2 separate regions of the Homo sapiens genome follow, and region 2 is linked to region 1. Evidence: fine-mapped expression QTL. A gene starts in region 1. The other region holds a variant in brackets. All regions are shown on one strand. Distances are between the middles of the regions.

Region 1 (5,380 bases):
TAGCCGGACATGGTGGCACGTGCCTGTAGTCCCAGCTACTTGGGAGACTGAGGCACAAGAATTGCTTGAACCCAGGAGGTACAGGCTGCAGTGAGCTGGGATTGTGTCACTGCACTCCACCCTGGGCGGCAGAGCAAGACTCTGTCTCAAAAAAAAAAAAAAGTGATTTATATATATAATGGAATGCTATTCAGCCTAAAAGAAGAAGGAAATGCTGGCCAGGTGCGGTGGCTCACACCTGTAATCCCAACACTTTGGGAAGCCAAGGTGGGCAGATCACCTGAGGTCGGGAGCTCAAGACCAGCCTGACCAACATGGAGAAACCCCATCTCTACTAAAAATAAAAATTAGCTGGGTGTGGTGGCACATGCCTGTAGTCCAGGCTACTTGGGAGGCTGAGGCAGGAGAATTGCTTGAACCCGGGAGGGAGAGGTTGCAGTGAGCCAAGATTGTGCCACTGCACTCCAGCCTGGGCAACAAGAGCAAGACTCTGTCTCAAGGAAAAAAAAAAGAAGGAAATGCTCATATCTATGACAACATGGATGAACTGGGAGGATGTTATGTTAAGAGAAATAAATGAGGCACAGAAAGACAAACACTGCTTGATTTCTCTCATATGTGGAATATAAGTTGAACACACAGAAGTAGAGAGTAGAATGGTGGTTACTAGAGGCTGAGGAGATGTTTGTCAAAGGATACAAAATTTCAGTTAAGAGAGATAAGTTCAGGAGGCCACTTTGGGAGGCCAAGGCAGGCGGATCACCTGAGGTCGGGAGTTCGAGACCAGCCTGACCAACATGGAGAAACCCCGTCTCTACTAAAATATAATATTAGCTGGGCGTGGTGGCGCATGCCTGTAATCCCAGCTACTCAGGAGGCTGAGGCAGGAGAATCACTTGAACCCGGGAGGCAGAGGTTGCAGTGAGCCAAGATCACGCCATTGCGCTCCAGCCTGGGCAACAAGAGTGAAACTCCGTCTCAAAAAAAAAAAGAAAAGATCTATTGTATAACATGGTGACTATACCCACTATGAATATGTATTGTATTCTTGAAAATTGCTTAAAGAACATATTTTAAACATTTCCAGCACAAAAATATGAGGTAATGCATATATTAATTAGCTTGACTTAGCCATTTCACAATGTATACATATTTTAAAACATCCTGGCCGGGGGCACGGTGGCTCACTCTTGTAATCCCAGCACTTTCGGAGGCCGATGTGGGTGGATCACCTGAGGTTAGGAGTTTGAGACCGTCCTAGCCGAAATGGCAAAACCCCGTCTCTACTGAAAACACAAAAATTAGCCAGGCGTGGTGGTGCGCATCTGTAATCCCAGCTACTTGGGAGTCTGAGGCAGGAGAATCGCTTGACTTGGGAGGTGGAGGTTGCAGTGAGCCGAGATTGAGCCACTGCACTCCAGCCTGGGCGACAAGAGTGAAACTCTGTCTCAAAAAAAAAAAAAAAAAGAAAAAAGAAAACATCCTGTTGTACACAATATATATTTTTTGTCAATTAATAAAAATCAATAAATTTAATTAAAAAAATAGTCGAGTGAAGTTATTTCCCATGACTAGCTCCTCTTCTTCCTTTAGATTTCATCTTACATGTCACTTTCTTGGAGAGGCCTTACCAACCTAACCAAAGTAGCTCCCCAGTTTTAATTTTTTTCACTGGGTTCCTATGCCTCCCCCACCAGTCTAAGAACTCCATGAAGCCAGTATGTCTTGTGTTCAGCACATAGGGAAGACTCAATAGGTCTTTGTTGACTGAATGAAATGAAAGAAGTCCTTCAACATCCTGCCCCTCTGCTCCCTCAACCCCCAAAGCACCAGTACTTTGTCTTCTCTTCTCTTGGGATGTAATGGAAGAGGAGTCTTCTACCAAGGCCGTTCTCTGCCACTTTCCTCAAGAAGCTCCTTGCCTCTTTGATTGATTCTCCTGTATACTCTTTTTTTTTTTTTTTTTTTGAGACGGAGTCTCGCTTTGTCACCCAGGCTGGAGTTCAGTGCCCCAGTCTCAGCTCACTGCAACCTCTGCCTCCCGGGTTCAAGCGATTCCCTGCCTCAGCCTCCCAAGTAGCTGGGATTACAGGCACACGCCACCATGCCCGGCTAATTTTTTTCGTATTTTCAGTAGAGACGGGGTTTCACCATATTGGTCAGGCTGGTCTTGAACTCCTGACCTCAGGCAATCCACCTGCCTCGGCCTCCCAAAGTGTTGGGATTACAGGCATGAGCCACCGGGCACGGCCCTGTATACTCTTCACTAATCTTTTCCTATCAATATGCAAAGATGTTTCCCTTAAACAACCAACCAACCACAAATCCCAAAAGTTTCTTCCTCTACCAGGCTTCAGATCGGCACATGACCGCCTTCTTGCCTTGACTTTCAGGAGTCTGGTATCCCCCGTATTCTTTTATCTTAGCCTCCTTCTCTGGCTTTTTTTTTTTTTTTTTTTTTTTTTTTTTTGAGACAGAGTCCAGTCCTGCTCTGTCGCCCAGGCTGGAGTGCAGTGGCGCGATCTCGGCTCACTGCAACCTCTGCCTTCAGAGTAGCTGGGATTACAGGCACACACCAACATGCCCGGCTACTTTCTTTGTATTTTTAGTTAGGGACGGGGTTTTGCCATGTTGGCCAGGCTAGTCTCGAACTCCTGATCTCAGGTGATCCGCCCGCCTCGGCCTCCCAAAGTGCTGGGATTACAGGCGTGAGCCACCGCGCCCGGTCTTCTGGCTCTTTCTAAAGATTGGGATTTCCTAAAGTCCTGTTCTTTTCAACCTCCATTGAAAAGTGTTGGGGTGGAGTTTGGGAAGGAGGGGCTGAGGAGTGAGGCTGGGTTAGGTGGGGAATAAAGAGAGGGATATGAGAAGCCCCGAGGTCTGGGGTCAAGGAGACAGGCGTGGGGGAAGGATTTGAACCACTGTTACGTGTAGTGGGGGAGACAGCAGGGAGAGCGTGCCCGGGCACGACAGCCTGGTGCACAGCCGAGAAAACAACAGCGCGTGCGCGTAGCGACCTCTTTGCGCCTGCGCCCCCCTTGCCAGTCTTTCGCCGGCAAAAGGAGGACGTAGAAAAGGGGACACCGGAAACTCACTCTTCACCCGGAAATGGTTATTGAGGAACATGGCGTTGCTGGTGCGAGTCCTTGTGAGTGAAGGAGTAATTTTCTACGGTAGCTCTCTGGGTCCCGGGTTGGAGTTCGACAAGGCAGGGCGGGAGGAATTGGAAGGAATCGCAGGAGGGAAGCCTGTGTTATAGCTAGGCTGAGTGGCCGCTTTTCCGTGGGGAAACTGAGGCAGCTTCCGACCTCTTCCTACCCCGTTTTGACCTTAGCTCCCCCATCTTTCGAGAAGGGGAAGACTGACATCTGGCCTTTATTTGATGGGGTTTACTTTTCCTTCCCTCCCCCATGTACCTGCTTCCCCTCAGGGAGAGGAGCATGTAGGACACTGATTGGAGTTTCAGGAGGCCTGGGTTCTAGTCCCTGACTGTCACTGATGCATAGTGACTTTAAGCAAGTCACTTTTGGGCCTCATTGACCCTATGTGAAAAACGAGGACATTTATCTCCTGCAGTCCCTTTAGATTCTGAGATTCTCAGGGTTTCTTTCATAGGTAATAAGTCAGTTCTTAACTGTACAGTTAAGTGGAATATAGATTATTAGATTGAAAGCTGCGTGAGAATTGGAGTCATGTCTGTCTCCGTCGTTTTCACTTTGCCTAGCATGGTGTCTGGCACATCATAGGTGTTAAATGATTACTTGTTGAATAAATGAATGAAGTAAGGAAAGACTACCAGACTCTTTAGCACCCGTGTGTGAAACTACTGCACCTCTTGAGATTTAGTCCTGACCCTTCTAGCATACTCTTTTCTCTAGCAATTAAAGGAGAAAAGAAAGTGGCAGCAGAAAAAACGTTAGGATACAGAGCTTAGTTTTTAATCATGGAGGGATGGGAGAGTGTATAGTTTTAGCGAGTCTTCAAAAACTGGGTCAAAGACACTGTTTTTCATAGTAGACATGGTCTATTCCTGTGTCTAGGTAACTTCTGAATTGTTATTTTACATTTGTGTTTTTGATCTTTTTATATATGTCTTACAAGGACGACAGTTTTACTTCTTGTATTCCTTGCCAGCCTAGCAGAGTGAGGTACCCTCGACTGCTGTTCAGTAAATATTTATTTGTAGAGTAGCCCCTGTAACTGCCAGAAAGATTCACCTGGTGAAGTGATTGTTTGATTTCAGGCCAGAAATTGATTCAGAAATGAGGACTGCTGGGGAAATGGCAATTAGAATGTTCTGAATTTAGTGGTTTTTTTTTTTTTTTTTTTTTTAATCCTTCCCCTGCCACCCTTTAGGGTTTTGTTTTTTTTTTTTTTTTTTTTGAGGCAGAGTCTTGCTCTGTCGCCGAAGCTGGAGTGCAGTGGTGCCATCTCGGGCTCACTGCAACTTCTGCTCCCGGGTTCAAGCAATTCTCCTGTGCCAGCCTCCCGAGTAGCTGGGATGACAGGCATGCACCACACCACACCTGACTAATTTTTGTATTTTTTTTTTTTTTGAGATGGAGTCTCGCTCTGTCACCCAGGGTGGAGTTCAGCGGTGTGATCTCGGCTCACTGCAACCTCTGCCTCCTGGGTTCAAGCAGTTCTCCTGCTTCAGCCTCCCAAGTAGCTGGGATTACAGGCGCCTGCCACCACACCTGGCTAACTTTTGTATTTTTAGTAGAGATGGAGTTTCACCATGTTGGCCAGACTGGTCTCGAACTCCTGACCTCATGATCCGCCTCCTGCGGCCTCCCAAAGTGCTGGGATAACAGGCATGAGCCACCGAGCCTGGCCTGACAACTATCATTTTATAGGGCACTTACTACGTGCTAAGCACTTTAAAATACTTACCTAATCCTTATAACATCCCTTTGGAAAGGAGGGCGTGTTATTTCCTCTATTTTACAGATAAGAAAACTGAACCACAGAGAGGTATTCCTGGCCAGGTGCCGTGGCTCACACCTGTAATCCCAGCACATTGGGAGGCTGAGGTAGGTGGATCACTTGAGGCCAGGAGTTCAAGACCAGCCTGGCCAACGTGGTGAAACCCTGTCTCTACTAAAAATACAAAAATTAGCCAGGCCTGGTGGTGGGCGCCTGTAATCCCAGCTACTCGTGAGGCTGAGACACGAGAATTGCTTCAACCCAGGAGGCGGAGGTTGCAGTGAGCTGAGATTGTGCCACTGCAGTCCAGCCTGGGTGAAAGAGTGAAACTCTGTCTGAAAAAAAAAAAGAAGTATTCCTGAAACATTCTTGTTAGTCTTGCTTTATTTTTTCCTCTTTTTGTCTTGTCAGCCAATATTTTCCCTTCTCCAGTGATGGTTTTGGGAAGGAGGAG
Region 2 (5,380 bases), 910 kb after region 1:
AAGGAGGAAATGCTGACACATGCTACAACATGGATGAAAATTAAAGATATTATTCTAAGTGAAATAAGCCAGCCAGGAAAGGACAAATAAGGTACGATTCTACACTTACGAAGTACTAAAGAATCATAGAAACAGTAGTAGAATGATGTTTGCCAGGACCTGGGGAAAGGGAGTCATGGGGAGTCATTGTTTAAAGCAGCAGTCTCCAGCCTTTTTGGCACCAGGCAATGGTTTTGTGGAAGACAATTTTTCCATGGACAGGAGTGGAGAGGGGGATGGTTTCAGGATGAAACTGTTCCACCTCAGGTTAGATTCTCGTAAGGAATGCACAATCTAGATCCCTCACATGCACAGTTCACAATAGTTATTGCTCCTATGAGAATCTAATGCCTCTGCTGATCTGACAAGTGGTGGAGCTCAGCAGGTAATGCTCATTCACCCTCCACTTACCTCCTGCTGTGCAGCCCAGTTCCTAACAGGCTGGGGACCAGGAGTTGGGGACCCCTGCTTTAATGGGTACCATTTCAATTTTACAAGATGAAAAATGTTTTAGGTCTGGCATGATGGCCTGTAATTCCAGCACTTTGGGAGGTCAAAGCAGGAGTATTGCTTGAGCTCAAGAGGTCGAGACCAGCCTGAGCAACAAAGTAAGACTCTGTCTCTACAAAAAGTTTAGAAATTGGCCAGGTGTGGTAGCACATGCCTGTCGTCCCAGCTACTTGGGAGGCTAAGGTAGGAGGACAGTTTGAGCCCGGGAGGTGGAGGGTGCATGAGTGGAGATTGAGCTACAGCACTCCAGCCTGGGTGACAGACTGAGACATGTCTCAACAAAAGAAACAATTTTTGGAGATAGGTGATGGTGATGACTGCATAATGATATGAATGCACTTAATGCCACTGAACTGTACACACTTAAAAATGGTAAATTCTATGTTATGTATATTAAACCCAACAATTAATTTTAAAAAGGAATGAAATACTGTATATGCTAGACCATGGATGAACCTTGAAAACATGCTAAGTAAAAGAAGCTACACACAAAAGGTTGTATATTTTGGCTGGGGGCAGTGGCTCACGCCTGTAATCCCAGGACTTTGGGAGGCCAAAGTGGGTGGATCACGAGGTCAGGAGTTCAAGAACAGCCTGGCGAACATGGTGAAACCCCGTCTCTACTAAAAATACAAAAATTAGCCATGCGTGGTGGTGCATGCTGCCTATAGTCCCAGCTACTCGGGAGGCTGAGGCAGGAGAATCACTTGAACCCAGGAGGCAGAGGTTGCAATGAGCTGAGATCACGCCACTGCACTCCAGCCTGGGTGACAGAGAGAGACTGTCTCCAAAAAAAAAAAAGTTATATATTTATCGTATGATTCATTTTATATGAAATGTCCAGAACAGGAAAATTCATAGAGACAGAAAGTAGATTAGTGGTTACCAAGGGCTACACGGGGTAAAAAGGGAGTGACTGCTAATGGGTACATGGATTTTTGGGAGGGTGAAAAAATTCTGGAATTAGACAGTAATGATGCTTACATAACCTCATAAATATGCTAAAATCACTGAACAGGCCAGATGCGGCAGCTCACACCTGTAATCCCAACACTTTGGGAGGCCGAGGTGGGTGGATCACCTGAGATCAGGAGTTTGAGACCGGCCTGACCAACATGGCGAAACCCCATCTGTACTAAAAATACAAAAATTAGCTGGGCGTGGTCACGGGCGCCTGTAATCCCAGCTGCTTGGGAGGCTGAGGCAAGAGAATTGCTTGAACCTGGGAGGCGGAGGTTGCAGTGAGCTGAGATCAAACCACTGCACTCCAGCCTGGTCTACAAAGTGAGACCCTGTCTCAAAAACAAACAAACAAACAAACAAACAAAAAAACCCCACTGAACCGAACTGCATAATTTAAGAAGGTGAGTTTTATAATCTGTAAATTATATATCAATAAAATTGTTACTTAAACACTACATGCATGTACAAAACATTATGTATAAAAACAAAAAGGAATAGACATTAGTAAAACAGTAAAGAGGTCAGATATCCAGGAAGGACCATATGTGACCACTAAAATATATCCCACAAAATAAGGTTCAAATATTGTTGACATTAGGTTGAATTCCAAAATATTAATATATTTGCTGTCAGATTAGGATTAGATTTAGTTTTCTACATTTTTAGAAATGTAATTAGATTTCAAATGAGAATATTTGTGGTCATGATGTTAGAAAGTAGGTCTCCTAACTTTCTTTTGCTGCCCTCAGAGAAAAGTTAAAATAACTCTAAATCCCACATTAGAAAAAAAATTCAGATGTGAAAAAAGGAATTGATTGCAAATAGTTGTAAGGAATCATACAGGGGTGAACAAAATGCTCTTAAACTGGATTGCTATGATGGCTGTGCTATTCTGTAAATCTACTAAATATCATTTTTAATTTCTAGCTGGCTTTAAATAGCTACAGATAACTGGACAAAAGCTGTTTTCTCTATCCATTCTGATTGTACTTACCAGGTATGACTTCTGGGTAGCCAATTTTCTTTCCCAACTTTTTCAATGCAGAATTTCTGTGGTCCATTGCTCCCTAAAACATAATGAAATCATAAACAGTTTGTTAGTATAGTGGATCTCAAACTGTGTTCCCCAATCCAACAAGCATCAGCATCATGAGGGAACTTGTTAGAACCATAAATCCTCAGGCCCCACACATCATCTTACTAATTCAGAAACTCTGGGTTAGGTGTGGTGGCTCATGTCTGTTATCCCAGTACTTTGAGAGGCAAAGGTGGGCAGCTCACTTGAGGTCAGGAGTTCAAGATCAGCCTGGCCAATATGGTGAATCTTGATCTCTACTAAAAATACAAAAACTAGCCAAGTGTGGTGGCGTATGCCTGTAATCCCAGCTACTCAGGAGACTGAGGCAGGAGAATTGCTTGAATCTGTGCAGCAAAGTTGCAGTGACTCAAGATTGCGCCACTACACTCTCGCCCGGGTGACAGAACGAGACCCTATCTCAAAAAAAAAAAAAACCAAA[A/C]AAAAAAAAACCAAAAAAAAAAAAAAACCCAAAAAACCCAAAAGCAACCAACAAACAAAAAAGAAACTCTAGGGGTCAGGCTCAGCAATATGTGCTTTAACAAGCTTCCGGGTGATTCTGGTAAGTGTAAAAGTTTGAAGACTATAGTTTGTTAATATAAGTCCCAAAGGAGAAAATGCAGTTTCATCTAGCATTCTTTAGCCGGAATAACACATTGTTATGATTAATAAAAGCTTACACAAGAACACACAAAAAGCTTAATTTTAGTAGTTTGAAAGACAATAACGAAACTACAATAAAACTTGATTTAAATACAGAATTAATAAAACTTTGTGAAATGTAAATATCCTAGTGAATTCCATATTATTAATGCTGGAACTTACAGGTCCTGTAGGGCATACCCTTACAAAAACAGATACAAGTATAAACATAAAATACTTGCCCCTCATTTACCTGCTGCTGGAGATAGCTGTGAAAAGTGATCATAAAAACACCAGTTTTTTAAAAGATCATTACTTTTCCCTAGGAAGCATTTATTGTTGGTCTCAATGACTGGTAATGCTACTAGATATTTTAATTAGAAGGGGGCAGGAACGCTAACTGTTCTGTAATGTGTGACACTGTCAGACACAAAGAACTTTCTCATGTCCCACCTGACTAAACCCTGTATACTAAGTATACCCAATATAAATTGTTAGTGCTTTTGTATTTAATAACACTGAATTGTTTTCACAAGTAGTTATGTAAAAAGTCCAGTAATATAGGAAACGTTATAAAAAAACACAGTTAAAATTATTCTGTGGTGTTCAACACATAAATTAAAATTAACTCACTCTGCATGTTCTCTCTACTCAATATATATATTTTTTGAGACAGAGTCTCACTCTGTCACCCTGGCTGGATGGCAGTGGCACAATCTTGGCTCAATGCAACCTCCGCCTCCTGGGTTCAAGCAATTCTCATGCCTTAGAGTAGCTGTGATTACAGATGTGCACCACCACACCCAACTAATTTTTGTATTTTTAGTAAAGATGGGGTTTTACCATGTTGGCCAGGCTGGTCTTGAACTCCTGGCCTCAAGTGATCAACCCACCTTGGCCTCCCAAAGTGTTGGGATTACAGGCATGAGCCATCATGTCCACCCTCTACTCAATATTTTATAGCATTTTCTTTTTTTTTTTGAGGCGGAGTCTCCCAGGCTGGAGTGCAGTGGAGCAATCTTGGCTCACCACAACCTCCGCCTCCCAGGTTCAAGTGATTCTCCTGCCTCAGCCTCCCGAGTAGCTGGGATTACAGGTGCCCACTACCACACCCGGCTAATTTTGTATTTTTAGTAGAGATGGGGTTTCACTATGTTGGCCAGGCTGGTCTTGAACTCCTGACCTCAAGTGACCCAACCGTCTCGGCCTCCCAAAGTGCTGGGATTACAGGTGTGAGTCACTGTACCTGGTCACATTTCATTTTTTATAAATTTTTTTTTTTTTTAAGACACAGGGTATCACTATGTTGCCCATGCTTAAGTGCAGTGGCTGTTCACAGAAGCAGTTATAGTGCACTACAGGCTTGAAATCTTGGGCTCCAGCAATTCTCCTGCCTCAGCCTCCAAATAACTGGGACTACAGATGTGTGCCCACCATACCTAGCAGCATATTTAACTACATAGATGGAAAGGAGTTTCATTTAATAATGCACATTAGTATGTAACAGAAAGGATTCTGAATTGCTTTTAATAGATTTAAAATCAAATATTAAAAACTCTGACACTGTCCCTAAACCATACAACTTCTGTGTAGACTTTTGTACCTATGTTCCTATTTTCAGCCACCTTTCAAATGTTATGGTCTCCGAGGCTTTTTTACATGTTAGAGCCTTGGCCTATAGTAGAATTTCATGACAGGAGATATATTCTGATACTATGCTTTTAAGATCTACCTCATTTTTCTCCACCTTGACCATCTATAATTTATTTTTGCAGGTGTATTATTCATACTTTATTTAGGTTACTTCCCTCCTTTTGTTATCACATATACTTAAGTCTATTATTTATCTTTCTCATCTGTTCTTTTATTTTCCAGTACTACTTGTCTTTTTTTTTTTTTTTTTGAGAGATGGAGTTTCGCTCTTGTTGCCCAGGCTGGAGTGCAATGGTACGATCTTGGCTCACTGCAACCTCTGCCTCCCAGGTTCAAGCGATTCTCCTGCCTCAGCCTCCTGAGTAGCTGGGATTACAGGCATGTGCCACCACGCCTGGCTAATTTTGTATTTTCAGTAGAGATACGGTTTCTCCATGTTGGTCAGGCTGGTCTCGAACTCCCAACCTCAGGTGATCCGCCCGCCTCAGCCTCCCAAAG

Evidence for each region. PIP is the estimated chance that this variant, and not a neighbour inherited with it, causes the effect.
Region 2: its variant is the best candidate, but not a certain one, in a credible set for the expression of UQCC1 in whole blood (TwinsUK, PIP 0.73).

Annotation. Positions count from the first base shown.
Region 1 is chr20:35,409,708-35,415,087 of GRCh38, reverse strand. It overlaps UQCC1 (ubiquinol-cytochrome c reductase complex assembly factor 1), which reads left to right and starts at 3,115. Exons shown (of 10, transcript NM_018244.5): 1 at 3,115-3,148. The coding sequence starts at 3,125. RefSeq lists enhancers at 2,880-2,929, 2,137-2,959, 3,060-3,209, 3,270-3,369, 2,960-3,783.
Region 2 is chr20:34,501,530-34,506,909 of GRCh38, reverse strand. ITCH (itchy E3 ubiquitin protein ligase) reads right to left here. Exons shown (of 25, transcript NM_031483.7): 24 at 2,507-2,579. Among named protein-coding and RNA genes, the nearest start is that of DYNLRB1, 12 kb to the left of the region's middle. The variant A/C (reference allele first, on the strand shown) is at 3,030.